4 separate regions of the Homo sapiens genome follow, and all the other regions are reported to be linked to region 4. The links are microRNA targets in miRTarBase. Many come from high-throughput screens and were not tested one by one. Region 4 holds a microRNA gene; each other region holds the end of a gene's coding sequence.

What was found. The annotated mature microRNA hsa-miR-7109-5p reads CUGGGGGGAGGAGACCCUGCU and lies in region 4 at 3,370-3,390, opposite strand. An mRNA with a match to its seed (bases 2 to 7 or 8) in the 3' UTR can be bound and repressed. Matches are read on the target gene's strand: a 7mer-m8 pairs with bases 2 to 8, a 7mer-A1 pairs with bases 2 to 7 and ends in A, and an 8mer does both.
Region 1: the mRNA of TGFBR3L is a reported target of hsa-miR-7109-5p. Seed matches in the 3' UTR shown: 7mer-A1 at 1,420-1,426.
Region 2: miRTarBase lists RPP25 as a target of hsa-miR-7109-5p. Seed matches in the 3' UTR shown: 7mer-A1 at 6,419-6,425.
Region 3: miRTarBase lists MYL12A as a target of hsa-miR-7109-5p. Seed matches in the 3' UTR shown: 7mer-A1 at 6,337-6,343.

What each region holds. Positions count from the first base shown.
Region 1 is chr19:7,917,508-7,924,604 of GRCh38, forward strand. TGFBR3L (transforming growth factor beta receptor 3 like) reads left to right here. Exons shown (of 7, transcript NM_001419781.1): 4 at 1-92; 5 at 194-352; 6 at 550-622; 7 at 1,410-1,590. The coding sequence ends at 617. It overlaps SNAPC2 (small nuclear RNA activating complex polypeptide 2), which reads left to right and starts at 2,831. Exons shown (of 5, transcript NM_003083.4): 1 at 2,831-3,042; 2 at 3,916-4,035; 3 at 4,198-4,266; 4 at 4,528-4,840; 5 at 4,938-5,743. The coding sequence starts at 2,860. The coding sequence ends at 5,257. It overlaps CTXN1 (cortexin 1), which reads right to left. Exons shown (of 2, transcript NM_206833.4): 2 at 6,984-7,097. RefSeq lists enhancers at 1-307, 308-1,183, 1,859-2,358, 4,059-4,661 and silencers at 179-278, 339-428, 549-618, 2,881-3,110, 3,191-3,390.
Region 2 is chr15:74,949,238-74,956,350 of GRCh38, forward strand. RPP25 (ribonuclease P/MRP subunit p25) reads right to left here. Exons shown (of 1, transcript NM_017793.3): 1 at 5,181-7,113. The coding sequence ends at 6,747. Among named protein-coding and RNA genes, the nearest start is that of RPP25, 4.0 kb to the right of the region's middle. RefSeq lists enhancers at 1,450-1,499, 5,351-6,284, 6,285-7,113.
Region 3 is chr18:3,255,368-3,262,480 of GRCh38, reverse strand. It overlaps MYL12A (myosin light chain 12A), which reads right to left. Exons shown (of 4, transcript NM_006471.4): 4 at 6,245-6,735. The coding sequence ends at 6,563. It overlaps MYL12B (myosin light chain 12B), which reads right to left and starts at 348. Exons shown (of 4, transcript NM_033546.4): 1 at 244-348. It overlaps MYL12-AS1 (MYL12A and MYL12B antisense RNA 1), which reads left to right and starts at 122. Exons shown (of 4, transcript NR_130145.1): 1 at 122-428; 2 at 1,151-1,209; 3 at 6,159-6,239; 4 at 6,643-7,045. RefSeq lists a silencer at 1-692 and an enhancer at 903-952.
Region 4 is chr22:31,618,137-31,625,234 of GRCh38, forward strand. It overlaps MIR7109 (microRNA 7109), which reads right to left and starts at 3,395; the gene lies at 3,331-3,395. It overlaps SFI1 (SFI1 centrin binding protein), which reads left to right. Exons shown (of 33, transcript NM_001007467.3): 32 at 1-90; 33 at 178-452. The coding sequence ends at 282. It overlaps PISD (phosphatidylserine decarboxylase), which reads right to left. Exons shown (of 8, transcript NM_001326411.2): 4 at 3,513-3,749; 5 at 3,198-3,336; 6 at 2,860-3,006; 7 at 2,417-2,577; 8 at 355-1,700. The coding sequence ends at 1,476. RefSeq lists enhancers at 5,243-7,098, 6,337-6,890.

The DNA.
Region 1 (7,097 bases), not on the chromosome of region 4:
CAGTGGCAGCGCCGAGGGCCTGGCTGCTGACGGCCCCCACCTGCACACGCTGACGCAGCCTATCGTGGTCACCGTGCCGCGGCCGCCCCCCAGTGAGCACGCAGTCCTCCTCCGCATGGGGCCGTGGGGCGGCAGAGCGGGTGGGAAGGACGCCTGGGAGCTGGACCCAGTCTCAGCGTGGCACTTCCCACAGGGCCGCCCAAGAGTGTCCCCGGCCGTGCAGTGCGCCCTGAGCCTCCCGCGCCGGCCCCCGCGGCCCTGGAACCCGCGCCGGTGGTGGCGCTGGTGTTGGCAGCCTTCGTGCTGGGCGCCGCGCTGGCCGCCGGGCTGGGTCTCGTCTGTGCGCACTCAGGTACCGACGACCTCCGCCAAGCCGGGCCCCCAGTCTAATCCCGCGCGTCGGGACCCGGGGCGGCCGCGATCCCGCCTGCGGGGCCTGATCAACCCTAGCTAGGCCTGCCTCCGCGATGCCCGCAGCAGCCCCCAGGGGCCGCCCTTAGCCTGGCGTGGCGCGCAGCAGCCCTTCTGCAGCTCGCCTCTCCCTTCCAGCGCCCCACGCCCCTGGCCCGCCCGCGAGAGCCTCGCCCAGCGGTCCCCAGCCCAGGAGGTCCCAGTGAGGAAGGTAGGTATGGAGGTGGAGGGAGCTGGGTGAGGTAGGAGATCTGACAGTGACGCTTCCTAGCGCTTAGTTCGTGCCAGGCACTGTGGTTTTTTTGTTTGTTTGTTTGTTTGTTTGTTTGTTTTTTGAGACGGAGTTTCGCTCTTGTTGCCCAGGCGGGAGTGCAATGGCGCGATCTCGGCTCACCGCAACCTCTGCCTCCCGGGTTCAAGCGATTCTCCTACCTCAGCCTCCTGAGTAGCTGGGATTACAGGCATGCGCCACCACACCCGGCTAATTTTGTATTTTTAGTAGAGACGGGGTTTCTCCATGTTGGTCAGGCTGGTCTCGCACACCCGACCTCAGGTGATCCTACCGCTTCGGTCTCCCAAAGTGCTGAGATTACAGGCGTGAGCCACTGCGCCCAGCCTCCAGGCACTGTTGTAAATGTTTTACGCCTATGAACTAACTTAATCCCCTTAACCTCTAGGCGGACACTATTATAATCCCCATTTTAGAGACGAGAATGATGAGGCATTCTCTGAATTAAGTAACTTGTCAAAAGTCACAATACTGGGTGGAGCTTGGATTCGAACTCAGGCAGTGGGTCACCCGCGGCAGGCGCGGGCTTTGGGTCGAGCCAGGGGCATTAGGTGAGGAGAGGCACTAGGCGAGGAGAACTCAGCATTCGGACCCGGCTCCCACTCTCACCCCGGCATGCAGACCGATGGAAGAGGCTAGTGGTCTGCTGGGAAGGGAGGTGGCCCGCGTAGCGTCCCCTCCCTCGCTGAGCCTCAGCCACCCCTCCCAGGGATGGTGCGCCCCCAACATGGTCCGGAGATACACCCAGCTACCAATTCGGGACCAGGACCAACAGGACCGGACCCGCCTCCCTGGACCTCGGACCTGATGAGGCCACGACCCCTGCGCTTCTCTCCTCCCCCTGTCCCTCCCACCTGTGCTCAAAATAAACCTCTGGACTGACCGGCTAAGTTCTGGTGCAGTCAGTGAGCGCGCAACGTGCGGGGTGGGGGATAGGTGGGGAGGCTTGGGGAGAAAGCTGGGAGCAGGACTTGGGGGGTATTCCTGAGAAATCGTGACTTACAGGGGTGGAGCCTGGGGACGGGGCCCATATGCCCATATACCCGTGTGCACTCCCAGGCCATGGGAGACTGTAGGGCGTTTTGTCTCAAACAGAAAGCGACACCCGGCCGGGCGCGGTGGCTCCCGCCTGTAATCCCAGCACATTGGGAGGCCGAGGTGGGTGGATCACTTGAGGTCAGGAGTTCCAGACCAGCGTGGCCGACATGGTGAAACCCCGTCCCTACTAAAAAAAGTAACAAAAAAAGAATTAGCAGGGCGTAGTGGCGCGTGCTTATAATCCCAGCTGCTGGGGAGGCTGAGGCAGGAGAATCGCTTGAACCCAGGAGGCAGAGGTTGCAGTGAGCCGAGATCGCGCCATTGCACTGCAGCCTGGGCAACAAGAGCAAAAATCTGTCTAAAAAAAAAAAAAAAGCGGCACCCAACCCCACAAGCGTAAGTTTAAAATAAACCTTCCCCCTCCCTCCTCTCCTTACCCGGACACCTGCCCATCTGCCTCCTGCGATCTTTCTCAAGCCAGGCCTTCTCCGCTCTCCATTACCCCCGCCCGGACCCTGCCCTAGCTCCGCTTCGACCTTCTGCCTCTGCTCCAGTTCCCTCCTGGTCTGGACTTCGCCCTCCTCTTAGATTGTCAGTCTAGTCTAGAGCTCCTTAAATCCCTCCTGCCCGAGCTCCACTCTACCTTACACAGACAAGAGTGGGACTATCAGCCCCAGTCTACAGAGGAGGAAACTGAGGCTCGGCAAGGCTAAATCACTTGCCCAAAGTCCCCAGGCCTGTCTGACCCCAGAGCCCAGGCTCTTGACCGACTGGATCTTCGGACTTGACCTTTCGGCCAGAACCCACCCCTCTGCGAGAAGCAAAGCACACAGTAGTAGCTTCATGAGTTAGTCCAGCAACAGAGGGAGGGCATGGGATCCAAGGTGTCGTCTCCACTTCATGAATGAGATAAAGTGCAGGCTGAGGGTCTCCTTCGCCCCGCCCCAGTTCCGGTGCCGATCTCCCCTTCACTTCCATTGGGGCGGTTCCCCGGGCCTCCAAACGCGAAGCCACGCCCCCACGCGCGTCCGCCTCCGCGCGGTTCTTTCTGACCTCGGCGGCCCCCGTAGCTCCGCCCATCGGAGAAGCGACCTTACAGCGCCTGCCTCTTTCTGAGCGGCATGAAGCCACCTCCCAGGCGGCGAGCGGCCCCGGCGCGCTATCTGGGCGAGGTGACCGGTCCCGCGACCTGGAGCGCTCGCGAGAAGCGGCAGCTAGTGCGACTCCTGCAGGCGCGGCAGGGCCAGCCGGAGCCGGACGCCACCGAGCTGGCCCGGGAGCTGCGGGGCCGGAGCGAGGCTGAGGTGAGATGCGGTTCTCGGGACCGGAGCCAGGCTGGAGGCGGGGCTGGGGTGGGGCGGAGAGTGGGCGGGGCTGCGGCAGGAGCCAGCGGGGCGGGGCCAGGAATGTAAGCGAGCGGGGGCGTGGCGTGGGGCTGAGTGGCGGGGCGTTAGTGGGTGAGCCTGGGCGGGGTGAGGGGCGGGGCGTGGACGGGAAGAGAAGACCTAGGGGCGGGGCGAGCTTGGGAGCTAGACGTGGGCGGGGCATAAGTGAAGCGGAGGGGCGGGGCGATGCCGGGGGCGGGGCGTGCGTGCCGCTGAGGTTTGGAGAGTGGGTGGGTGAGTTTGAGGGGCAGGACGAGCCTGGGGGCGGGGCGTGGGCGGGTTAATAGCAAGACTTAAGGGCGGGGCCGTTTTGGGAGTAAGGCGTGGGAGGGGCGTGGGCGGGATGAGGGCAAGCTTTAAAGGCGGGGCGAGCCTCGGGGTAATGCGTGGGTGAGGCGAGGGCTAAACGGGCGGAATGAACTGGGAGTAAGATGCTGCCGAGTCCGGGCGAAAAGCAACGCATGCTGTTGGACAGGATACGAGCTTGAAGTGAGAGGGAATAGAGAAGAGGGGACGAAGAAGGGAGTTGAACGGGGTAGTAGTCAGCATAGGGTTGGGCCCTGGCTGCGTGAAGGAGCCGGAACTGGCCTGGGCCTTACAACTTCCTTAGGTAGCTGGTCACGCTCTGGGTGGGGTAGGGGCCTTGGCAGTCACTGGGACTCCTAACACCGGGCCAGCAGGAGACTAAGGCGCAGTAGCGGGGCCCAGAGCATACAAGGGATTGGGCTTTGGCTTCTCTGCTGCAGCCCTGAGCTCATAGAAGCCTCATTCCGCCGCCTCTTTCCTTTCTAGATCCGGGTCTTCCTCCAGCAGCTCAAGGGCCGCGTAGCCCGGGAGGCCATTCAGAAAGTGCATCCGGGTGGCCTTCAGGGACCAAGGCGCCGGGAGGCACAGCCCCCAGCCCCCATAGAGGTGAGGCAGATGAACAGGGTGAGGCTGTCCAGGGCAGGTCCCTGGTGGGTAGGTGGGAGTTGCGGGGGATAACCTGATTAGGGGATCCCCAGGAGGAGCAGGGCTTGGGGGGCCATTGCAGGCTGATCCCTGGGCTGACCCTGTACCTCTGGCTTCACTCAGGTCTGGACGGATCTGGCTGAGAAGATAACAGGGCCACTGGAAGAAGCCCTGGCAGTGGCTTTCTCGCAGGTACCGCCATTCCCCCAGGCAGGTCAGGGTGTCCCAGAGGACAGGGTCACATGGGCCAAATCATGTGAACCTGGGTCCTGGGCCCTTTTGCCAGCTCTGTGGACTCCGTCAGTCACTGGACACCTCGAGCCTCAGTGTCCCTGGCTCTGAGGCCATCTCTTGTCTGAGGAGCATCTTAGGGTGGCAGGGAGGATGGGGGAATGTGTAGACGGTGAGAAGACTTCCCAGCTCCTCTTCCTCCCTGATTGTTCTGCCTGCCAGGTGCTCACCATCGCGGCCACGGAACCGGTCACCCTCCTGCACTCCAAGCCCCCCAAGCCCACGCAGGCCCGTGGAAAGCCTTTGCTCCTGAGCGCCCCTGGAGGACAGGAAGACCCCGCCCCTGAAATACCTAGCTCTGCCCCTGCTGCACCTAGCTCCGCACCCAGGACTCCTGACCCTGCCCCTGAGAAACCTTCTGAGTCGTCGGCTGGTCCCTCCACTGAAGAAGACTTTGCTGTGGACTTTGAGAAGATCTACAAGTACTTGTCCTCTGTCTCCCGAAGTGGCCGCAGCCCCGAGCTCTCAGCAGCTGGTGAGAAGGGTGAGGGAGGGGGCAGGAGCAGAGGGATCAAGGGTCCCTGGCAGCAGGCAGGGGTGTCCCCTTACCCCTCTCCTCCATCCATCACTAGAGTCCGCTGTGGTCCTCGACCTGCTCATGTCACTTCCAGAGGAGCTGCCACTCCTGCCCTGCACAGCCCTGGTTGAGCATATGACGGAGACGTACCTACGCCTGACAGCCCCCCAGCCCATTCCCGCTGGAGGGAGCCTGGGGCCTGCAGCAGAAGGGGATGGGGCTGGCTCCAAGGCACCAGAGGAGACCCCCCCAGCCACCGAGAAGGCCGAGCACAGCGAACTGAAATCGCCTTGGCAAGCAGCTGGGATCTGTCCCCTGAACCCGTTCCTGGTGCCCCTGGAGCTTCTGGGTCGGGCAGCCACCCCTGCCAGGTGAGGGGCATGGCGGGCAGGAGGCCACACCAGGCCCCCCGCCCTGCCCCTCGGTTCTGCTCGGCTGGCCCTGGCTCTTTCTGAGGATCCCGTCATGGGGGAAGGTCCTTGAGATGATGCTCAGCTGTGGGGCGGGCCTCTAAGATGCCCCATACTTTGGGGGTCTCAGAAATGGAACCCCCGTTGTACAGGGGTTGGGTGGGGGTTGCAGGACTCCACTCACAAGCCTCCTGATGTCAAGGACAGGCGGACAGGGCTGGCCTCCCCCAGTCCCCAAGCCCCACTGTGCCTTGTTGTCTGCTGGGGGGCCATAGCTGGCACTGCCCACCGTAAAGGCCCTCGCACATTTTCCCCCTTCCTGTACACCTCGGGGCCAGCATCCTCACCTTCTTCAACTGACCAGTCGTGGTTACTCCCTGCTGCCAGGTCCTTCCCCTTCCCGGGGGTATTCTGTGACCATGAATAAAGTTATCATTCTCTTTCTCTTTCACCTGTGACTTAAAGATGGAAGTGGGGGCCCTGAAGTGTCAGAGCTTGGGGGTCACAGGGCTGGGGGTGTGTGCCAGGGAGGAGAGCTGCCACCTGACTGGTGTGATGAGGCCTGGGGTGAGGAGCCCCTTGGTGACTGTGAAGCTGACAAGTGTGGATGGGGAGAGCCGGCAGGGCACCTTGGGGACAGGCGTCAGGGATGGGTTTCAGAGTAGGGCAAAATCACATCGCACAGGTGGAGGGGAGAAGGCAGCAGAGAGTGGGGGTGACCCGGTGGAAGGAGTTGAGCCCCAGGCTGGGCGGTTAGAGGAAGATAGATAGGGGTGGGCTGCCCCGAGTGGCAGGAGGCTAGTGGGAGTGGAGTGTCCCCTGGGGTGGCTTTGGGACCTCAAGGATCCCTAGAAGGCGGGGAGGGAGGGGTACTGGAGTCAGGGCTGACCCCAAACCCCTGGGGGTGCTGGGACCCCGCTTGAGGCCCCCTCCATCAGCTTCACCTGCCCTGTGGGTGTGGACCGAGGGTCGGGTCCTAGAGAGGGAAGCAGATGTCCTCCCACGGCACCGCGTCCCACGCCCAGCTAGTAATCCAAGTCGGTAAATTCTCCGTTCTCGGAGCCTGTGCATTCACCCAGCCTGCCTTTTATAGAAACGCTCATTCCTCCCCCCACACACTGCACACGGCTCCCCTGGGGTGCACATCTCTTGGGAGGGCCTTGGAGCACAGCCAGCCCACTCCGTCCGTGGTCACCGCCCCACCGCACCAGACCCACAAACGCTGCCAATGGTGGTGGGCAGGGGGAGGAGGCTTAGGCTGCAGGTACGGTCGGTCGTCGGAGCCTCCCTCCAGGGCTGGCAGAGGGTGCGCCTCCCAGTTCCCCACAGGGCTGAGTCTCTCTCACCACCCCCGGCGCCTCCCCAGATCAACAGAATTGTGTGTGGAGGGGAGGCAGCTGGGGGTTACACATCAGCCCCCCCCCCCAAAGCCGGTGAAAGGTGCTTGTGATCTTGGTGTCTTTGCAGCCCTGGGAAGCTTTAAAAACATGCAAAAGCCAGACCTGGGTTCCACTTCCAGCCCTACCAGACTCTAGCCATGTGACTGTGGGCAAGTCAGTCACTGGAGCTGCCTGGCCCTCGGTCTCCTGGCCTGTAGAATAGGGATGCTAACAGGGCCTGGCTCATTCTCACGATCCCGAAGAGGAGACAGGCTATAAACAGGAGGTGCCAACTCAGCACGCTACTTGGCATGCAGTAAGCGCTCAATAATAGCTTTTATTATCATGTTCGGCTCAGAGGCAGGGAGGAGTGGAACGGCATGGGAGGGCTGCGGGAGGCACGGCAGGGGGGTCAGGGGCAAGTGG
Region 2 (7,113 bases), not on the chromosome of region 4:
TTGGTTAGGCGGGTCTCGAACTCCCAGCCTCAGGTGATCCACCCGCCTCGGCCTCCCAAAGTGCTAGGATTACAGGCGTGAGCCACCGTGCCCAGCCTTTTTTCCTTTTTTTTTTTCGAGACAGAGTCTCACTGTCACCCAGGCTGGAGTGCAGTAGCACAATCTGGTGGCTCACTGCAACTTCCACCTCCTGGGTTCAAGTCATTCTCCTGCCTTAGCCTCTTGAATAGCTGGGATTACAGGCATAAGTTACCACGCCTGGCCAATTTTTGTATTTTTGAAGAGATGGGGTTTCACAATGTTGGCCAGGCTGGTCTCAAACTCCTGACCTCAGGTGATCCACCTGCCTCGGCCTTCCAAAGTGCTGGGATTGATTACAGGCATGAGCCACCATGCCAAGCCAGAGTTTCCAAATAAGGTATCAGGGATTAGGACTTCAACATGTCTTGGTGGGGGGGCACGAAATTCAATTCATAGCACCTATAATATTCAGGTGTCAGAAACAACACTGGAATCCTCAAGCTGAATATACAAACCCAATTGCCATGGTGACCCTAGCTTCTCCAAAGGCAGGGGTACCCAAGGGCTCAGATGGGATGAGAAGCTGTGGAAGAGATAGGGGCAGCTTTGGCCATTGGTTGGATGGTTAAGAATTGTAATGTGACATCAGAACAGTTCAGAAACCTGGCTCAGAAAGTCTTTTGTTGGTTTGAAAGAGTGGAGTGATCATGGCTCACTGCAGACTGGACCTCCCAGACTCAAGCAATCCTCCCACCTCAGTCTCCTGAGTAACTGAACTGCAGGCACACACCACCACATCCAACTATTTAATTTTTTTTTTTTTTTTTTTTTTTTTTTTTTGTAGAGATGGTATCTCACTATGTTGCCAGGGCTAGACTCGGAACTCCTGGGCTCAAGTGATCAGCGCTCCTACCTTGGCCTCCCAAAATGCTGAGATTACAGGCATGACCCACTGTGCCTGGCCAGCGGCAAGTCCATTCAATCAACAACTCTCTAAGAGCTTCTCATGTGCCAGGAGCTGGGCAAGGAGCAAGGCAGGCAGGATCCAGTCAATCACGGGCTCATGGGTTAGTAGGGTGACCAATAGCCAAAAGATAAGACTAATGAGGACACACTTATAAACCAGTATCTGTGCTCTGAAAGGAAGAAACTTGATGCCTTTGAGGAGACCCTCCTGTGGCTGCATTTTCCTCCTCTTTCATTCTCCTTCCCTTCCTTCCTTTCCTTTGCCTTTCTAACTACCATTCTCTTGGAGACCTGCGAGTGTTTCAACATCTCAGTGAAATAGAGGGACGAGAGCATCACCTAGTGGTCAGTGTGGGCATAGCAATGACCAAAACTGAACTAATCAGCTTGGGAGATGAAGGGCAAGGGGTGGTGGGGGTAGGCAGTGTGTGTGTCTGGCCCAGGTATGCACCTAACAGTGAAGTGAATACACTCTGGCAGATTCATGGCAATGGACAACAGCTCTTAAAGATTTACCAATTTGAAGCTGGGTACTCCCACCTCCCACAAAAAATAATCACTCCATTGTTTGGTCCTGACATAGCACGTCCCCTGGGGTGCCAGAAAGGCAGACCAAGTCCTGGCCAGGCAGGGTTAATGCTCAAGGAGAACCCTCCCATTTCCTGGCTGTAATAGCAGTGAAATCCTACCTAGCCTGGGTAGCTCTCACATCTGCTCCCATCTCCCTCCGCATTGCCGATGTCTCATCTCTTATCCCTGCATTGTCTCTAGGGTCTAATCAGACCCCCTTCCAATCCACTCCCACTTACACAGGTGTCAGAGGGATCCTTCTCAAACACCAGTCAGATCTGGGCTCAGAGCACTCCCTGGCTCCCAGTGGCTCCCTCACTTCCCTGTGACCTGGCTCCCACCGGCTCCCTCACTTCCCTGTGACCTGGCTCCCACCTAGCACTCTAGTTCACCTGCATCTCTACACGTTACCCTCTGCCATCTCCTCTATCCATCAGACACCTGTGGCAGCCTCAGCATCATACACACCCGCTCTCTATGCTCTGCCTGGAGCTCCCTGTCCAGTCTTGGTCAGCTGGCTAACTCCTGATCCTTGGAGAACCAGCTCCATCAGCACCTCTGGGCAAGGTAAGTTCCCCTTCTCAGAGCTCCCATCTTCTATCATCACACTGTGCTAGATGGGCCCAGGCTGGAGTGCGATGGCACATCTCAGCTCACTGCAACCTCCACCTCCTGGGTTCAAGCGATTCTCCTGCCTCAGCCTCCCAAGTAGGTGGGATCACAGGCGCCCGCCACCATGCCCGGCTAATTTTGTATTCATCATATTGGTCAGGCTGGTCTCAAGCTCCTGACCTCAGGTGACCCCCCCCCCCCCGTCTCTGCCTCCCAAAGTGCTGGGATTACAGGCGTGAGTCACCACACCTGGCCAAGACTCGGCCCTCTTTGAGGTACAGTGTCTGATTATGCTGTGATTCTATACCCAGCCCCAGCCCATTTCTAGACTGGGTCCCGGTACAACAGTGAACACTTGTTGAATGAATGAAGGCTCAGGTGGAAGTCCATCACTCATTCGACCATGAGCTCTGGGCCTTGCATTATATACTTTTATGTTTCCAAATGGATTTTGTTTTTGTGACCTAAGTTTTCTAGGTGTGAGACTTCACTGCCGCTCCTAGTCTGGAAGTATCCCAAGGCGGGGCCAAGGCAAGCACCAGGCTGGGTCCAGGAAGCTCCTGGGTAGAGACCACTATTGGAAAAATGGGGTTTCACAAGAGGGACTCTCCCACTCTGCCACTAGTCGGCTCCTGAAATGGGCCTTGTCTCTGAGGTGCTCCCCTAGCCACCCCTCCCTTTATCCCAGGACTTCTGAGGTTCCCACTTCAGCCTTGGTGGTGGGGAGCGGGTAGAGGAACATCTGTCACCTTCTTTTGGAGCCTGCTCCTAGGTCAGTGGGGCCAGAAATCAGTAGGGCAGAGATGGAGTGCTCATGCGTGCTGGGTTCCATTGGTGAGTCAGCACACCTACTGAAAGCCTGGGAACCAAACTTGCCGGGGTGGGGCGGGAGTGCAGAAAAGAAAGTGTTTCATGACCTGCTTGGGGGAAGGTTAATGCTCTGATGCTGGATAAACATGTTCCTCTCTTCTCTACCCCCCAGGATAGGTTTCTGGGCTGGAAGGGAACTTTTCTGACCCATCAAGAGAAATCCACTGCAGGCCGGGGGCAGTGGCTCACCCCTATAATCCCAGCACTTTGGGAGGCCGAGGCGGGTGGATCAGTTGAGGTCAGGAGTTCAAGACCAGCCTGGCTAACACGGTGAAACCCCGTTTCTAATAAAAATACAAAAATTAGCTGCTCATGGTTGCCCACGACTGTAATCCCAGCTACTCAGGAGGCTAAGGCTGGAGGATTGCTTGAACCTGGGAGGCGGAGGCGGCAGTGAGCCAAGACTGTGCCACTGCACTCCAGCCTGGGCAACAGAGTGAGACTCCGTCTCAAAATAAAAAATAAAATAAAAAAATAAAAAGAGTCCGGGAGCAGTGACTCATGCCTGTAATCCCAGCACTCCAGGAGGCTGAGGCGGGTGGATCACCTGAGGTCAGGAGTTTGAGACCAGCCTGGCCAACATGGTGAAACCCCATCTCTACTAATAATAAAAAAATTAGCCGGGCGTGGTAGTGCACACCTATAATCCCAGCTACTCCGGAGGCTGAGGCAGGAGAATCACTTGAACCTGGGAGGCAGAGGTTGCGGTGAGCTGAGATTGTGCCATTGCACTACAGCCGGGCGAAAAAATATATATATATATAAAATCGTGGTGGCTCACACCTCTAATCCCAGCACTTTGGGAAGCCAAGGCAGGTGGATCACAAGGTCAAGAGATTGAGACCATCCTGGCCAACATGGTGAAATGCCGTCTCTACTAAAAATACAAAAATTAGCTGGGCGTGGTGGCACATGCCTGTAATCCCAGCTACTTGGGAGGCTGAGGCAGAAGAATCGCTTAAACCCAGGAGGTGGAGGTTGCAGTGAGCTGAGATTGCACCACTGCACTCCAGCCTAGTGACAGAGCAAGACTCCTTCTCAAAATAATAATAATAATAATTAAAATAAAAAAAATAAAAAAGAGAGGCCGGGTGTGGTGGCTCATGCCTGTAATCCCAGCACTGTGGGAGGCCGAGGCGGGTGGATCACCTGAGATCAGGTGTTTGAGACCAGCCTGGCCAACATGGTGAGACCCCTTCTCTACTAAAAATACAAAAACTAGCCGAGTGTGGGGATACACGCCTGTAATCCCAGCTACTCAGGAGGCTGAGGCAGGAGAATCGCTTGAACCCAGGAGGCAGAGGTTGCAGTGAGCCGAGATCGCACCACAGCACTCCAGCCCGGGCGACAGAGAGATACTCCGTTTCAAAAAAAATAATAAAAAAAAATCCATTGCAGCCTTATCTCCGTGACAAGACTAGCAGACCCTGCTTTCTTTTTTTTTTTTTCGAGACGGAGTCTCACACTGTCGCCCAGGCTGGAGTGCAGTGATGCAATCTCGGCTCACTGCAACCTCCGCCTCCCAGGTTCAAGCGATTCTCCTGCCTCAGCCTCCTGAGTAGCTGGGATTACAGGCGCCCGCCACCATGCCTGACTAATTTTTGTATTTTTAGTGGAGACGGGGTTTCACCATGTTGGCCAGGCTGGTCTCAAGCTCCTGACCTCGTGATTTGCCCGCCTTGGCCCCCCAAAGTGCTGGGATTACAGGATTACAGGCATGAACCACCATGCCCGGCCTCAGGCCCTGCTTTCATAGTCCTGGTAACCCGGCTATCAGTCACTTGTTGTCTTGGAAAGTTGGACCCTTTTCAGAACCAAGACCAGTCTCCCTTAAGCTTCTACCATGCAGGACCTTGTCCAAGTTTTATCACTGCCTTTAGATGCTGAAGTCCAGGAGAAGCTAGGCCATCTTGTCAGGACAGTTTACATTCTTTCCATGCTTCTTGGGCCACCCCTGAGAGGGTCAGACAAGCAAACCCAAACCCCTTGGCCCTCTCCAGGGACTCATCAAGAGCAGGAATTTGGGGAGAGCAACGAGGGACAAAGTCTGGATGACAAAGCTCACTCCAAAGCTCAAGCAGAGATACTGCAGGGGAGGGAAACCTCCCTAAGAGCCCCTCCAGTCAGCCACAGAACGTATCTCTTGTCACCAGCAGGATTTATTTCAGGGTTCTGCCAGCAAAATGACTTATAAATACATTCTTCCGCATCTCCCCCTTTCCAGGGGTGCTGCTGAGTTGCATGGGATGAGATCTGCTTCTGAGATCCTGGGGCTGTATGCCACCCCCAACTCACCAGAGCTCTTCCAGCACACAGCAGCACCCCCACCCCCCAGCTGGCTTGGAGTTGGGCAGAGAAGCTTATGAGGCTGTTATCTCTCAACAGACAGCTGTGCAGGGCTGGAGGCAGCAGCTTATCAGGAGGCCTGCAGTGATTCACAGCCCAAGACCCAGCTTCTCTGCTGAATAGTAATTTCCAGCAGTGGATTTGTGCTCAGTCTCTCTCCTCCCCCTTTCCCAAGGGTGTGCTGTCCTTTCTCAGAGAGAGGGCAGTGAAGGGGAGATCCTACCCACAGAGCTGGGGGCTTTGTGCCAGCCTTCTGGGTAAGGTTCAGTTTATTGTCTGGAGGCTGCAGATTCAGGGACCTCAGCAGGGTCTGCCACCCTTTGCAGTGACCTCCAGGAGAGTTCATCGATGCTGTCCTTCCACTCCTTCCTTCCCCTCCCAGAAAAACAATGTGCCGCTCCCTTTCCCTTAGTGGCGATGTACAGGGGTACACGGGCCCCCATTTGCAACAGCCTCTGAGGCCAGGGCCAGCCCGGGAGGGCGGAGTGGGGGAGGAGAGAGGAAGAAGCCAGGGACTGGGCAGTGCCTTGCACCATTTTGAAGCTGTTCAGTCTCTGTGCCTGACCCTGAAGACTCCAAAGACTCAGGACGCAAGGCTGGAGGGGAGGGGAGACACAAGGGGCCAGGCGAGAGCTGTCTCTGCACAGGCGGGTGGTTAGAAAAAAAATGGGGGACACAGCCATTTTTGTGCTTGTTTTATTGGAAGCAAGACTCCAGCCAGCTGCAGGGCTCAGGGGAGGAGGCCTGGAGAGTTCAGTCCTGGGTCTCCCTCTGGGCCAGCAGGGGGAAAAGGGGTGTTAAAAGAGCTAGAACCCTCAGAGATGCTCCTCTGAAGCAGGGGAAAGAAAACTAGAAAGGAAAACTGTCCCAGGGCGGGGAGCGGAATAGGGCCCCCACATCTCAGACTCTCCTACCCTCAAGCAGTTAATTCTCACCCCCTGCCTTCCTCTGTCAACGGTGGGGGTGATTCCAATAACTCTTCTCAGCTTCCATACTTCAGGTGCTCTTCGTGAATGCTGGGTGGCTTTAACCCTTGGGGGTCCCAAACAAGTTTCCAGAATCCCACTGTCCACCATTCTCCCCCAAAGAAGGTCCCAGAAAAGGTGAAGTTCCGTGTCTTCACGCAACACGGGCATAAGCAGCAATTATCGCACGAAGTTTCCCTAGGGTGGTCGGGGATCCTCTCCTGCCACTCCTGGGGCCCCTCTCTTGTCGCCTTAAGGTCCATGCTACCTGTCTTGAGGAGCTGTGTCCAGGTTGTGGGCTCCGGAGGACCGAGGAGTGAAAGGCTGGAGGTACATCTGAAGGTGGAGGCGCTGGCGGAAGATCCTGCCGGACTAGGTGGCCCACAGTCCGGAGTTTCAGGCCGTCTGATCCTCGTCCGCAACCCCTGGCTCGGGTTGCGATCGCTTCGCGGAGCCTTCTCCAGCTGCGGGTTCCCCTAGGCTCCTCTTGGACGCTGGCGCGGCTGGCGGGGACGAGGGACCAGGATGGGGATTCGGGGGCTGGTAGCCGGGCTGTCGCGGATCCAGCGCGTCCTTGGAAAGTAGGATGGCGAGGCCGGGCACGTTCTTAAGTACGCTGAGACTAGCGGCCGGCTCGCCAGGCGTCTGACCCTGCGTGGGCCCAGGCGGGAGGCTCTGCCACACCTCGCGTACGCTCCGGTAGCGCAGCCGCGTGACCTGGTGCAGGCCCGCCAGGCGGCGCTTGAGGATCTCGGCGCACGTG
Region 3 (7,113 bases), not on the chromosome of region 4:
CGCCTGCAGCCTCCCGGCCCCTGGACGTCCGGGCCAGGGCCTCGCCACCAACCCTCCTCCCGCCGCCAACCCTCCTCCCTCCACCTCCGGCCCCGCGCCCCCTTCTCAGCCAGTCTGACAGGTCCTGCCGCCGCCTGGCCGCCCTGGGGCGGGGTCCGGCCGCAGGCGCGCGACGGGAGGGGGCGCGGGGGTACGGAGACGGCGGCCCGAGGGGTCTCGCGAGCAGAGTCGAGCGCGACTCACCCGACGCCAAACACCAGAACCGGGGCCGCCCTGCGCGAGACCACAAACGACAGCGAAGAGCGTTAGGCTGTGGCCGGACAGTGGCGGCGCCGACACTTCCTGCCTGAAGGGGCGGAGCGGAAGGCGCACCGGAAGGCGCACCGGAAGGCGCACCGGAAGGCGCGGCGGGACCAAGTGGAACGGGGGTGCGCTGAGTGTTCGCGCCCGGGCCGGCGGGGTCTGCGTGTCCGCCGAGCGGCGGGGCTGCTGAGGCCGGACGCACACGGCCGGGGTCTTAATTGCCCCTCCGGCCTGCTCCGATCCGCTGCGATATCGCGGCCTGCGCTGCGGCGGTCGTCCGCAGCCCGGCCCTCGTCCCCCGCTCCTTTGGTAGCTCCGCCACCCTTCCGCATTCCTGGGCCCGCTGGGCGCGGCTGGGCAGGCCGCTGGAATTTGACCCGAGTGGGCCGCGATCGGCCGAGGATTTGGGGTCCCCTTTGACCCAGGCGGGGCGCGATCCGCCTAGGATTTGGGGTCCCCTGGCGCCGAACCCTGAGTTGCCAGATGTAGCAAGTAAAAGTACAGTTCTTCTAAATTTGAATTTCAGACAAGACAGGTTTTAGGGTTCGTCTCATGTAATGTTGAGAAGGTGAGGGCGGCGCCTGGGCGGATTCTTCTCCGTTCCAGAATCCCTTTCTCTTTTCAAACCGCATTACAGCCCGAGTTAAATTCTTTAACCTACTCCTCTCTGCTTACCCTCATAAGGTTTACGGCCGTATCAGGCTACGGCCGCAGCCTACGGCTGTTTGATTCCCCTTTTGGCCACAAGAAAGTTTTATTCGAACTACTTGCTTTCCTTTATCAAGAAAATGGCAACGCACACACATACATGCACACACAAATAAAAACACAAAGCTACGTTTTTCAGGTTTTGTTCTAGATCGTGTTTGTGGCTGTGTTCTTCAGGATATTTTCCCTCACCTTGAGGTAATCTAGCATTACTTCATCTAGCATTACTAAAATAGCATTACTTCAGGATGGTGGAGGATCGGCAATCTAATAGCAAATCTTTATTGAACTCTTCTTACTGCCTTAACATGTGCCGGATGCTGAGAGATGAATTCAAAGCCTCTTAGGGAGTTTATATTCTAGAAATCTTTGATCAGAAATTCCTAGAAGAGAGGGACCTTGTGTTCAGCACTCTGTAGCAGTTCTTAAACAGTAGCACGCATAATAACAGGGCTTTTAAAAACATTTTTGAGCCTCAAAACCGGGTATCAGGATTCAGTGAGTAAGGGGTGGAGGATAATTCGAATTTCTGGTAAGCACACATGATGCTGATGGGGTGGTCGCCATCCCAGCAGCACAGCTCTAAACGCGGTTCATAACTGTGTGTATTTTCTCAATAGTGTTAGAAAAGCAATTGCTGAAAAGTCACACCTGGTTCTACAATATTTACTCTTAGGTTTTGGTTCGATAGTCTAAATTAAAAAAAAAAAAGTTTCTAGAATTGTGCTGTCCAATACAATCGTCACTAACCACATGCAGCTAAACTTAAATTTAGTTCCTCAGTTGTATTTGATACGTTTTATTTTTAGAGATGGGGTCACCCTATGTTGCCTAACCTGGAATGCACTGGCTATTCACAGGCGTGATCATAATGCACTACAACCTGGAACTCCTGGCCTCAAGCGATCCTCTCACTTGAGCCTCCCAAGTAGTTGGGACTACAGGTGAGAGACACCGCACCAGTGCGTCTGGCAGTATTAGACACTTTTTTTTTTCTTGAGACGGAGTCTTGCTCCGTCGCCCAGGCTGGAGTGCAGTGGTTTGATCTCGGCTCACTGCAACCTCTGCCTCCCGGGTTCATGTGATTCTTCTGCCTTAGCCTCCCGAGTAGCAGGGACTACAGGCCTGTGCCACGACGCCCAGCTAATTTTTGTATTTTTAGTAGAGACGGGGTTTCACCATGTTGGCCAGGATGGTCTCAATCTCTTGTCCTCATGATCCGCCCACCTGGGCCTCCAAAAGTGCTGGGATTACAGGCGTGAGCCACCGCGCCTGGCTAGTATTAGACACATTTTAAGTGCTCAATAGCCACATGTGGTTAGTGTCCTTATTGTATGGCACAGAGAGCATTTCCTTAATTACAGAAGCTTCTATTTGACAGCACTATTCTGAAGAAATAATTCTAAGGTATATTGTTCTCTCTAGATGCAAAAGAAAAGCCTATAATAGGCTTTGTTTAATCATGAATAAAAATTTATTCACTAATAAAAATAGCTGGATAGCTAAATATCTATCATTGGGAAATTGTTAATTATAGCATGCCCACATCAAAGATAACTGAAGTTAAGAATGGTTGAAAAAGAAATATACTCAAAACAATGGTGGCTATGCCAAAACATGAGATATAATTTAAGTAGTAAACGAAAAAACAAGTTGTAAACTCATTACAACTCTAAAATGTGTGTGGATAAATACTGGAGAAAAGTCACATTTCCTGCTATTTGAGCAGACACAGAGAAATCTAGACTAAAAAGATATAGGGACTTGGAAGATGGAAGAGCAAGTGGAAATGACTCGAATAAGCAGCAATGGGAAAACTGGGCATTTCTTCAATGTGGGATTAGCTACTACAATCCCTTTATGGACAGAAAAAATAAACTGTACCCGTGAAGAGGACCTAATTCGACACACACAAGTCTGGCATATTGGACCTGCTCAGGAAATCGAAAGTGAACTATTTCAGAATCCACTAGTACCAAACTGACAGGCATTTGTATGCATAGTCTTATAAAATCTTCCTAACAACCTGTTAATGAAATTCTACCTTGAAATCCATCCACTTTTCTAAGGGCAATCCTACGTGGTCTAGGTTCTGTCACATCCTAGCTCTTAGACATGATCCATTTTGTTTCACTAATTGTTCCCCCCTAGTTTGTTGTCTTCTACTCTGCCTATAAACAGGCTTGAATTTGAAGATATGCCCTTTGCCCCTTCTCACTGGCCCACTCGTAAACAAAATAACTACTATTTGGAGACCTAATGTGTCCCAGACCATTTGTCTTTCATGCTTCTAATTTTCAGAAGAAACTTGGATGGTATTGGCCATTTTACAGATGAGGAAACTGGCAATTAAGAACACAAAGTCAAATAGGCAGGTGCAATTCACTTAAGTATGGCTCCAAATCCGTGCTGCTCTTAATCACACAAATGCTGCTTTATATATTATGTTCCTAATATGAACCAACAGTATTATTTCCGTTTTATAAATGAATAAATAGGCCAAGGAAGTTTAAATAACTGACTTAAGGTTATAGAGCCATGACGTAGCAACAAACGGGAATTAAGTGTAGGTCTGCCTGACCCCACACCTAGGCATTATTCACTATCCTGTGCTGCATTATGGATTCTGCACTCAGAACTCTAATAACTCTAGCAAACATGACTAACGACTTGTCACATCTGGGAGGGTCTCATTTAAACCTTCCCATACTCCACTTTTCTGTGTTGGACACTGCCAACCTCCTTACTCTTGAAATTAACTAGGTTTCCGTAAGACTGTTTTTGTGGCTCTATTTACCTCTCCAAACTCTGATCATTTTTTATCTGATCCTCAAGTCTAGGTGTTAAGCCTCTTGCTGTCCTTCCTCTTTTCACTTTGTAGCAAATGGTTTCCTTTCCTTCTCAATTTGCTGTTACTTGTCTCTTATGCTCAGGCCTTCCTCCTTTCTTTCCCAGGAGCATTCAATTCCTGCTCTCATCAAGTTATAGATTCTTTCATCAAGTAAAATTTGGGGCCTGGAATCAAAATGACCATATCATCATATGCAGGTGGATAAGGATGCCACCCCCATTAGGCTGGTTTTGTCCGATTTTTGTTTTCTTTTTCAAGACAGGGTCTCGCTGTCACCCCAGGCTGGAGTACAGTGGCACAGTCAGCTCACTCCAGCCTCAAACTCCTGGGCTCAAGCAATCCTTCCACCTTAGCTTCCAGAGTAGCTGGGACTATAGGCACCCACCACCATGTCCGGCTAATTTTTAATTTTTATGTAGAGATGGGGTTTTGCTTTGTTGCCCAGGCTGATGTCAATCTTCTGGCTTCAAGCAGTCTTCCTACTTCGACCTTCCAAAGTGCTGGGATTACAGATGTGCGCCAACGTGCCTAGCCAGATCTTTTGAAATGGTTTAAGTATGACTTTCATCATGGAAACTTTTGAGACTGATTTTTCAGTCAAACACACCATTGAAATGGATGCTTTTACCTTTCTGTTGGCAATCACTCTTGTTTAAGCAAAGAATGCTATTACTAAATTAGGAGAATTATTTCATTCAGGGTACATCATTGTTCTTAATGCAAGTTGGTTCATTAAGCACTTATCTGAAAGGGAAACAGGGGCCCTGCAAGAGATCCTTTTAGTAGTACCTTGTTTTTCATATAGTGCAAACAATGCTATCTGTTCTTCACTAGAGATGTAACAAAGCATATGATAATTTTTTCTCTTGACATGGAAATTCAATTCAAAAAACAAGATTTTAGCACCATGGCCATAGCCTGGAAAAAGTATTTTGGCTTAACCAGTGAATAAAATTCAGAAACAAAAGACAAAGAATGAAGGCAGGTTCTAAGATTCTAATGCTGAAGAGGTCAAGGACTAGCTTTGACTAGTCCTTCTATTCCTATAGCACTGGCCTTCCCACGTTACAGGATCTAGCTGATCTATCTTATTGGCTGCAAAGGCCTGCTGCCCAGAAGGCTTTTAGTAATTGTTTACTGAATGAGGTAATGGTTTTGTCCAAGGAGAGTCATGTTAATCGTAGCATAAAACTTAAAGTTATTATAGTAATTGTCAATTACTCATCTTCATAGGCTAATTGTCAAATCTTTTCAACCAAATTTTTCTCCATTTCAAATCTTTTAAAACTCATGCTCTTTGAGAGTCAGAGTTTTGGGCTGGGCATGGTTGCTCACACCTGTAATCCCAGCACTTTAGGAGGCAGAGGTGGGAAGATCACTTGAGTACAGGAGTTTTAGACCAGCCTAGGCAACATAATGAGACCTTGTCTCTACAACAAATTAAGAAATTAGCCAGGCATGGTGGTGCCTGCCTGTAGTCCCAACTACTCAGGTGGCTGTGGATCACTTGAGCCCAGGAGGTCAAGGCTGCAGTGAGCTGTGATCGTGCCATTGCACTCCAGCCTGGGTGATAGAGCGAGAGACCCTGTCTGGAAAAAAAAGAGAATCTTGAAGCCCTTTGAGAGTCAGATTTTTAAAGCTGAAAAAGAACGAAACTGTCTGCCACTCCCTGATTAACTGTGAAACAGTTCTGCATTTCTGCAAATAGTAGAAGTTATTTTTAGGACTGAAATAATGACCTCACTTTCCCAGGCATGCAGGTTCAGCTGTTTTGATTGTGGGAAGGTCAGGAATGTCCAAAACTCAAACATGGACTCATGGTGAATCTCTGCATAAACAAATATCTTTCAATACACATTGCTGTGTTAAAGAAAAACTACATATAATAAAAAAAATACTGCATTATATTTCCAGCACTTTAAAACATAACATAAAAATCTCTCTTTGGTAGCATTCCACAGAACCTTTAAGCCAAAATGGTTTTTAAAAATATGACAAATTGAAATTATACTCAGTAACCTGGTCTAATTTTAAATGACCAGAAATTACAAAAGTTTAAATAAAGTGGAAATGTTGGCAGGTATGTCAACTTAAGGACTTAAAGCTATGGAAACTATCATATATGCAAATTCTACAGGAAATTATTTTAAAAATTGGAAGACAAAGTGCAGAAAACCTGATTAGGGCAGTTAAAATTGGATATCCTTGGGAGGAGGAGGAGGAATGGATAGTAGAGGAGATAGGATTGTTAGGAAAACTGGAGGAAGAGAAAGCTAACAACCATATCATTTTCTAGGATTTCCCTCATCTACCTTTCTTTGGGAGATACGACTGAAACCAACAAAAGCCAAGTTTGGTAAATAAGAAGTTTAAACAAGTAAGTATTTTATCATAAAGTTTAATTATGATTCAGAAAAAATCGAGCGAATAACTTTCTCTGAAAAAATATATTGACTCTGTATAGACCACAGTTATTGGGGGAGAAGGGCTGGTAGGTTAAATTATCCTATTTTTTATTCTGAAAATGATATTAATAGAAAGTCCCGTTTCCAGTCTGATTATAAAGATACATATGCCCAAAATGGCTGAGAATAAATACAACAGGAAATGCAAAAGCTGTAAAGCTAAGGGCATGCAAGAGAAAATCTCAGAATACCCAAAGTGGCAACAAGGAACGTTTGGCTGGAATTTGAAGTTATTTCAGTCATCTTTGTCTTTGGCTCCATGTTTCAGGATGCGTGTGAACTCGATGTAATTGAAATTCCCCTTTTTATCAATAGGTGCTTCTCTGTACAGCTCATCCACTTCCTCATCTGTAAACCGATCCCCCATGGTTGTCAGCAGCTCTCTCAAGTAATCTTCCTGTATGGTGCCTGGAGAATAAAGAACAAGGGATCAGAATACATACTATTCTGAGGGTTAATTACAAAGAATATCTATACTTGACTAAGCATGTTCTGTATGTTACAAACTATAAACATGCAAATATATGAACTACAGGGTGTCCACCTACTTAAAACAGCCTCAGCAGAGAAGTGCCTAGAAAAATGCCTAGCTGCTTAGCAGCACTGCTCCGCTCTATCATTTGCTCTATCATTCTGCCTCCACATTCAGCTTCTGATCTCTTGATAAGAGAGACTAAACCTATGCCTAAACAAAGTAATAAAAAGTATGGTTAAAGAATCTAAGCCTTACGGTTCCTTCAAGTGGCATGAATGGTCACATCTTATTCTACAAACAAGTAACATTTA
Region 4 (7,098 bases):
AGCCTGCGCAGGTGGCTGGAGCTGAACAGAGAGGAGCCGGGGCCTGAGGACCAGGAAGTAGAGCAGCAGGTGCAGAAAGAGCTGGAACAGGTGAGGCCCCAGGCCATCCCCAGGTGTCCCTGGGGACGCCCCGGGCTGTGCTCCCTCTCAGCCCTGCCTGTCCCTCCATGGCCCCAGGTGGAAATGCAGATCCAGCTGCTGGCAGAGGAGCTCCAGGCTCAGCGCCAGCCCATTGGCGCCTGCGTTGCCCGCATCCAGGCCCTGCGGCAGGCCCTGTGCTAGCGTGTTCGCACCAGGAACGCAGGTGCTGGGCTGTCGGGGAGGCCTCAGGCCACCTCCAGGAACAGAACACAGTTTTAAGTTTGATTTTTTTTATTTCAAAATGCTTTGCAATTAAATGAATTACTGTTCAGAAGTCTCCCACTTTTCATACAAAAATACTGTGCTACTGATACAGTTGAAAAAATTCAATGATGTCTCTCCTGCAGGAGAAATTCACAGCATCCCCAGGGTCAACATGAAATCTGGCCCTGTCCCCGCCACTGGGGGCTCCCCAGGCCTGCGTTCCTGATAAACTGGGACAGGTTTTCCAGGCACTGACCAACTATCCACCAAGGGTCCTCTGCCTCCAAGACAGACCCTGAATCAATAGCAGCAACTTTCCCATATTTCATGTAGGGATATGTGGAGGGGGACAGGAACTCTCCCATTTCCCCAGCTGGGCCTACTACCTGCCTGCCCTGTTCACTCTGGTGCCATGAGGCAGGTTCAGTGATTGATTGGTCTTGCCTGCTGCAGAGGACCTGGCCAGCTCCAGAAGGGTCACTCATCAGGTCCTGCAAAGGTCTGTATCATTAATCAGTGTCATCAGTGTCCTCAGAAGACACTAGCAGAGTCCAGGGTGATGCGTTCAGCCACAAGCACAAAGACTGCTTTTTCTAAAGAGCAGGATGAGGTGAATGTGGGAACGGAAAGCAGTTGTCACGAAGGCTGTGTGGCTCTGCTGGGGGAGAGGCATCCACAGTCTGTGCCAAGGAGGCACCTCACCCTGTGCAGCAGGAGCGTTAAGGCCAAAAAACAAAAGGGGCCAACAGAAAACAGCTCAGGTGATGGGGGGAGGAGCAGCAAGAAAAAACGACAACCGAGACCAACTGAAGGTTCGGTCAGGAATGCAGGCTCTTCCGTCTATACAGTGTTTAAAAAGATCCAAATGTGACTGAGATCATTCCAGCCTGCACTTTTTATTTGTAGGCAGAAGGAACGGGATAGGTTGAGGGGCATGATGGGGGCTCTCGCCACCTCTTGTCTGCACCTCTGGAACAGGTGGTAGCCGAATCATTCAAGTCCTACCTGGTCAGACTCCCAACCACGCTGAGGCAGGCCCTTACCTGGATGGCCTCATGGGCCTCCCTCTTGAAAAGACCCTCACTCTGTTTGGAAAAGATCCCTTAGCAGCCATAATCAGGAAAGAGACTCTAGAGCGAGCCCAGGGCTTCCCCAAAGCGGATTTTCTGTCCTGTTTTCAGCTGGAAATTGAAGTCCTTGGGGGCCTCGAAGATGAGCACGATGGTGGAGCCCAGGTTGAACTCGCCCAGGTGCTCGCCCTTACGCATGGGGACGCCCTCTCTATTGGTGTGCGTCACGAAGCTGAAGTCATTGTAGGAGCCCTTGCTGTGCCTTGGGCTGTTTGTGTGCAGGTCCTGTGGTGATAGGCTGGGGGTCAGTGGGGCCCAGGCCACCAAGTGCACAGTGTCACCCCCACATGTGTTTGGAGTCCCACTCCCTCTGTTGCTTGTCCCCACCACCACCCAACCCAGCTCCAAAAGGGAGGTGGGGATGGCATCTCAGGGCCAGGTGGGCCTGCTCTAGCCAGATCTCACACACAGCCTTGACACCTGCTGTGAACTGGGCCCAGGGAGGACAGGGAACAGTGGGGCCCAGTGGTCTCCATGCATGGTGCTGGGAGAGCAGCACCCGTGGGAGCCAAGGCCGTTGGTCACAAACTGACACCCAAAAAGGCAGCCCCTGGGGGCAGGGTGGGCAGCAGACCTGCGAGTGCTGACCCCTCATGCTGTAACCAACATGAGCCACCCCGAGCTCAACACTCCCTTTCTGTTCCCTCCTCACTCTCACCTTTGACCATGGTTCCTAGCAGAAGCCAGGTGCCAGGCAAGGAGGTTAATTCCCTCCATCTCTTCCAGCCACTTCCAGCCAGCAGTGCAAGGAGGGAGGGAAGCCTCAGCTGGCTGGCAGGTGGAGCGGCCATTCTCAGGACAGCTGCTCAGCAGAGCCAGGCCTGACCAGAGCTGTGGCCTCCCTAGAATTCAGTCCCAACGCATCCGCCGCACAGCAGACAAGGCAGGTAGACCCAAGAGGTCTGGCCCTTGGGCTTTGGCAGGGCCTAGATCCTGCTTACCCGGTCAAAGTAGATGCGAATGGAGCCCACGTTGGTGGCCCCCACAGCTGTCAGTGAGAAGAAGCCATGTTTCCAGTCCCCCGTCAGGACCACCCGCTCGTTATGGCAGAAGAGCTCTTTGATCCAGCGAGCCATGCCAGGGTTCACTGACATCAGGGAGCCTGCAGAGGCAGGGAATGCCGCTACTCCCCGTCCAGAGCCCGGTGTGTCCACCCCATGGCAGCCAAGACCCAAAGGGACTCATGGCCTGTTGCCCCGATGTCACTCCAAATGCTGAGCTGACTGGGCCCCACGGTCCCCTGCCCACAACCAGCCTGCATAAAGCAGTCAACTCCTGGCCTCAATGACCCTGATCTGGAGCCTGGTCCCCCAACACCAAGAAGCTGAGAGCCTCTATATGAAGCCCACAGAGGCAGCTCCCCCCACGCTGGCCCCGGGCTGACCTGGGAAGTGGCGCCGGTGGGACACAGTCCAGTCGGTGGGGGAGTGGAAGCAGTGGTAGTCCCCAGGGGCCAGGTAGATGACACAGTGATAGAGCTCATTCCCTTCCCGGGTGACCAGCTGGTTCTTGAAGGAGTCACACGACGCGGCTGTGGAGTAGGAGCAGACGTGGGGGCCACCAACACAGTGAGCACCCAGCACGGAGCCCGAGTGTGGTCTGCACATGGATTCTCAGGGAGGCCCCACATGCCAGCCTCAGTTCCTTCCCCAGCATTCCCCTCCCTCCCGGTCCAGCCACACAGCAGCAGGGCTGCCTAGCCCCGCCTGTGCAGTGACCCACCTGGTGGGAAGGGCAGGTCCTCTGTGCACATACGCGGGCCCAGGAACGACTCCAGGGAGTAGGTGACCCCCTTTACCTGCTCCACCTCACAGTTCTTCACCTGCCCAAAGTTGAGGATCCTTCCATCCGATGGGCTAATCTGGAAGGGCAGGAGAGGCTTGCTGCCAGGGAGAGCAGGGTCTCCTCCCCCCAGGAGACAGCCCCCACCTCCCCTTGTCATCCTGCCCCTTCCAGATACGCTGGAGACCAGGGGGGCTGTGCTGGGGAGGCAGGAAAAAGTCCTGTTTCCTGCAGGAGGAAAGGGTCAGGCCTCACCACGCTGTGCAGGCCACAGACAGGCCGGGCCTGCGGCTTCAGCTTGCGCCGGAAGAACTCGCTGAGGTTGCGGTAGTGATGCAGGTCCTCCACAGCGGCCTCTTTCATGTTCACCCCAAACGTCCAGATGTACAGGCTGTAGACGGGCCTGCGCAGCCAGTGTGGCAGCTCCACCTGATTGAGGCGACCCCAGGCCCGTGACAGCAAGCGCGTTGGCACTGACTTGTACAAAGCCACCTGCAGGCCACAGGGCAAGGGGCTGAGTTGACCACACTGCCCCAGCTCCAGAGAGCCCAAGTAGTGTCATTAGCCCAGCTCTCACTTCAGGGGAGAATCTGCACCCCACGGAGGACACCAGGGCCCAGGTGCCCCACGCTGCTTTTGTGATGTGGCTGTTTCTCACTGGGAACCAGACTGCACCTGCCACACGGAGTGCTGGATTTACATACAACTCCAGTGGATTTCATCATTTCATGCAAAAGTCAAATAGCAACTGCTCCAGTCCCAGAACGGGAGACGCCCAGCAGTCTTACTTCTTAAAGTGGGGGTCGGAAACGGATCTGATCCTAACCACAGTGTGTGACCCTAGCCACGGTGACCCCAATATCACAGTGTGTGGAGAGGTGGTGGGCATCTTGCCCGTGGTCACTGCCCATATCCCAGACCACCAAAGGAGGAGGCTCCCAAGTGCATGGAACAAGTCTACAGCCCAAAGTGTGTCCCTCTGTCTTAACAGGAAGAAGGAGGATACCCTGAGCACCAACAGGGATTTTCAGATGCAGGTCTGCGATGTCACTGTCACCTGGGCCTGAGCTGCAGACACAGGGTCTGCAGCCCCCACAGGTCCAGCCAGCACTCTTGAGGGCCTGGATGCAGCCAGTCTGAGAAGCCCAGCCCTGCTGAGCCCCACCTTGGCCCCACGGCAGGACTTGTGTTCAACGTTCTACTGTGACTGAGCCAGGCCATAAAGCCATCTGCACCTGGGGTTCCTCCCAGGAGGCAAAGAGAAGTCATCCCCTCAGGCCCCTCTGTTCTCTCTTCCTTCAGGGAAGCCTGGAGCACCTAAGACAGACGATGGCCTGGGGACAAGCACTGGGTCCCACTAGATGGTCCCAGAGCTCTCCGGCAGGGCCAGGTACCCAGGAAGGGGCAGCCTCTTAAACTTCAGGTGCTGCTGCCACTGTAGAAGCTGCCTGTAATTGGTGGCTGCTGCTTCTCTAAACACAACCAAGACACCAACTCCCCAAGGTGTAAAACTGATTTCATTCCAACTTTCAACACCTCTCCAAGGTAAGGTAAGCTCCCAGAGAGCTGCTCTTATCCCTTCCAGCTGATGCCCAGTCACACAGAAGGGCTATGTGAGCCCAGGCCCTTCCCAGGCACAGGTGGGAGCCTGGGCTAATGTCCAGGGTGCCTCAGTGCCCCTGAGCTCTGATGACACCCATGTGACTGTCAAAGGCCCAGGAACAGGGTTTCCTCCTTGGGGTCAACCTGCCTGGGAAGCCAAGGGCAAGAGCAAGCCCTCTAGGGACCAGGAGAGGACAAGCCAGTTCCCTTGCCCATTCCTGGGGCATGCCTCTGGGTTCCTTAAGGGTGTCCTCACCCTAAGGGACCCAAACAGGATCCATCCATCCTGAACCACCCCTTTGGCATCCCGGAATTAATTTGGCTTCTGTTCAAAATCACCTATAAGCTCTTTTTTGCTTGAACACAGAAAAATCAGAGACAGACACCATTTTCTGAATCCCCAGACTGGGTTCCTTCCAGAACCAGAGCCCCAAATGGCAGACATGAGGCAGGCTAGGGGAGTGGGCAGGGCACGACATGCCCTCGCAGTCACCCGCGGCCCAGGTAGTGGCCTTCTCAAAAGCTGCCTTGGCCTTGCCCACCAATGAACCTTCCGACCCGGACCCCCTGAAGATGTAGCGGTGACCTCTGCTTCTGACAGCTCGCCACCACCTCAGTCTCTCCTGCACCCCAACCTCAGGCCTGCCCGGAAGGGAGGTCCGAGCCACAGGGGCCTGTGCACACTTACCCTGCTTACGGGCCTCCATCCCACCCGGCTGAGCGGTCTGAGGGCGCCGAAGGGCAGGAGGTAGTAGAGGACGGTCAAGGGCCAGGAGCGCAGTTTCAGAGCGGGTCTGGACATGCAGCTCAGCTGCCCCAGCCTCCGCCTCAGGGCCAGCTGGGGGAAGTGCAACCTGCAGGGCACAGGTCCATGCACAGCCAGGTCAGTGGCCAGGCTCTGGGCAGGACCCAGGAGGCTGCCACCTGCACCCAGGGCAGGATTCCTCCTGTCTACCCACCCTTGGCAAGCTGCCTCTCCATGGGGGTGATGGAGCCCAGCAAGCACTGGCTGTGCCCCCTCGTCCCAACCCCATTCTGATTCAGGGGCTTGGCTGCCTCTGGCTAGCGGACTCATTTCCCAGGCTCTCCCACCCGCCAGCCAGCTGGGGAGGACTGGGAATGTGGGGGCAGCCGCAAGAGGAGAGTCAGGCCCAGCTGCGGGGCACCTCTCAGCTGCAGCAGCTCCCAGCAAGGGCCTCCAGGCCCAAGCACCTGGGCCCAGGAAGGGGAGAGCAGGGTGTAGGGCCTGCCTCACATCCCTCAGCCTCCGCAGCCCAGGAGAGTGGGCCCCAGGGGCCAGCTCTGCCACACAGGCACTGGCACGGCAGCACATAGCGCTGAGGAGCTACGACCCAGCCAGCTGGGTAACCATTTGCTGAGTCTTCCGCTACCATCCTTTGCAGGATCTGGGATATCCTTTTCATGGTTCCAGGCCCCCCCTTTCCTCATCTGCTAAATTACGGGGCCAAGGCCAGACAAGATCTCAAAGGGAGCATTTACACTCCGCCTACCACCACCACACAGCTACGGCTCCATCCATCTGCATGGTCTTTCTATAACAGGCCAGGTTCTGAAAACCCATCCACAGGTTTGTGAACAAAACCTCCCCACCACAAGCTCTCAAGCCACCTGTCTGCTCTGCTGGGGCTGCACAGACAGACACACACACACACACACACACACACCCATCCCAAGCCCCTCCTTTCAGCAAAGGTGGACACACACACACACACACACACACACACACACACACACACACACGAGACCCAAGCCCCTCCTTTCTGCATCCAGCCTCTCTGTGATCCGGCCTCTCCCCACCCTCCCAGCACAAATGCAGGGCACTCAGCAGGGGCTCAGCTTCACCAGAGCCGCAGAGGCTGGACGGGCCTTTCCACCACAACCCTGGCCTCCTGCGCCTAAACAAGGCCCACCCCACCCTGTCTGTGCCTAGGCCTAGCAAATGCTCCTGAGGCCCAGGGTAGCCAGCAGGAGACCACACTGCCATCCACTCAGAACGTCCCCAGGTCTCAGTTTCCTCATCTGCAAAGTAACTGCATTTAGCTAATCTACGGCTGCCATCTGGGACTGTGCTCTCAAGAGAAGCTGAGTCCTCTCTCCCAGTTGCTGAGCAAACCAAGGAACAAAGCAGCATCTCAGCTGATAGCAGCAGAGCAGACGGCAGGCGAACCAGTGGCGAACCCCGCTCAGGCTCAGGCTCAGAGCTGGCTGCATCCACGCA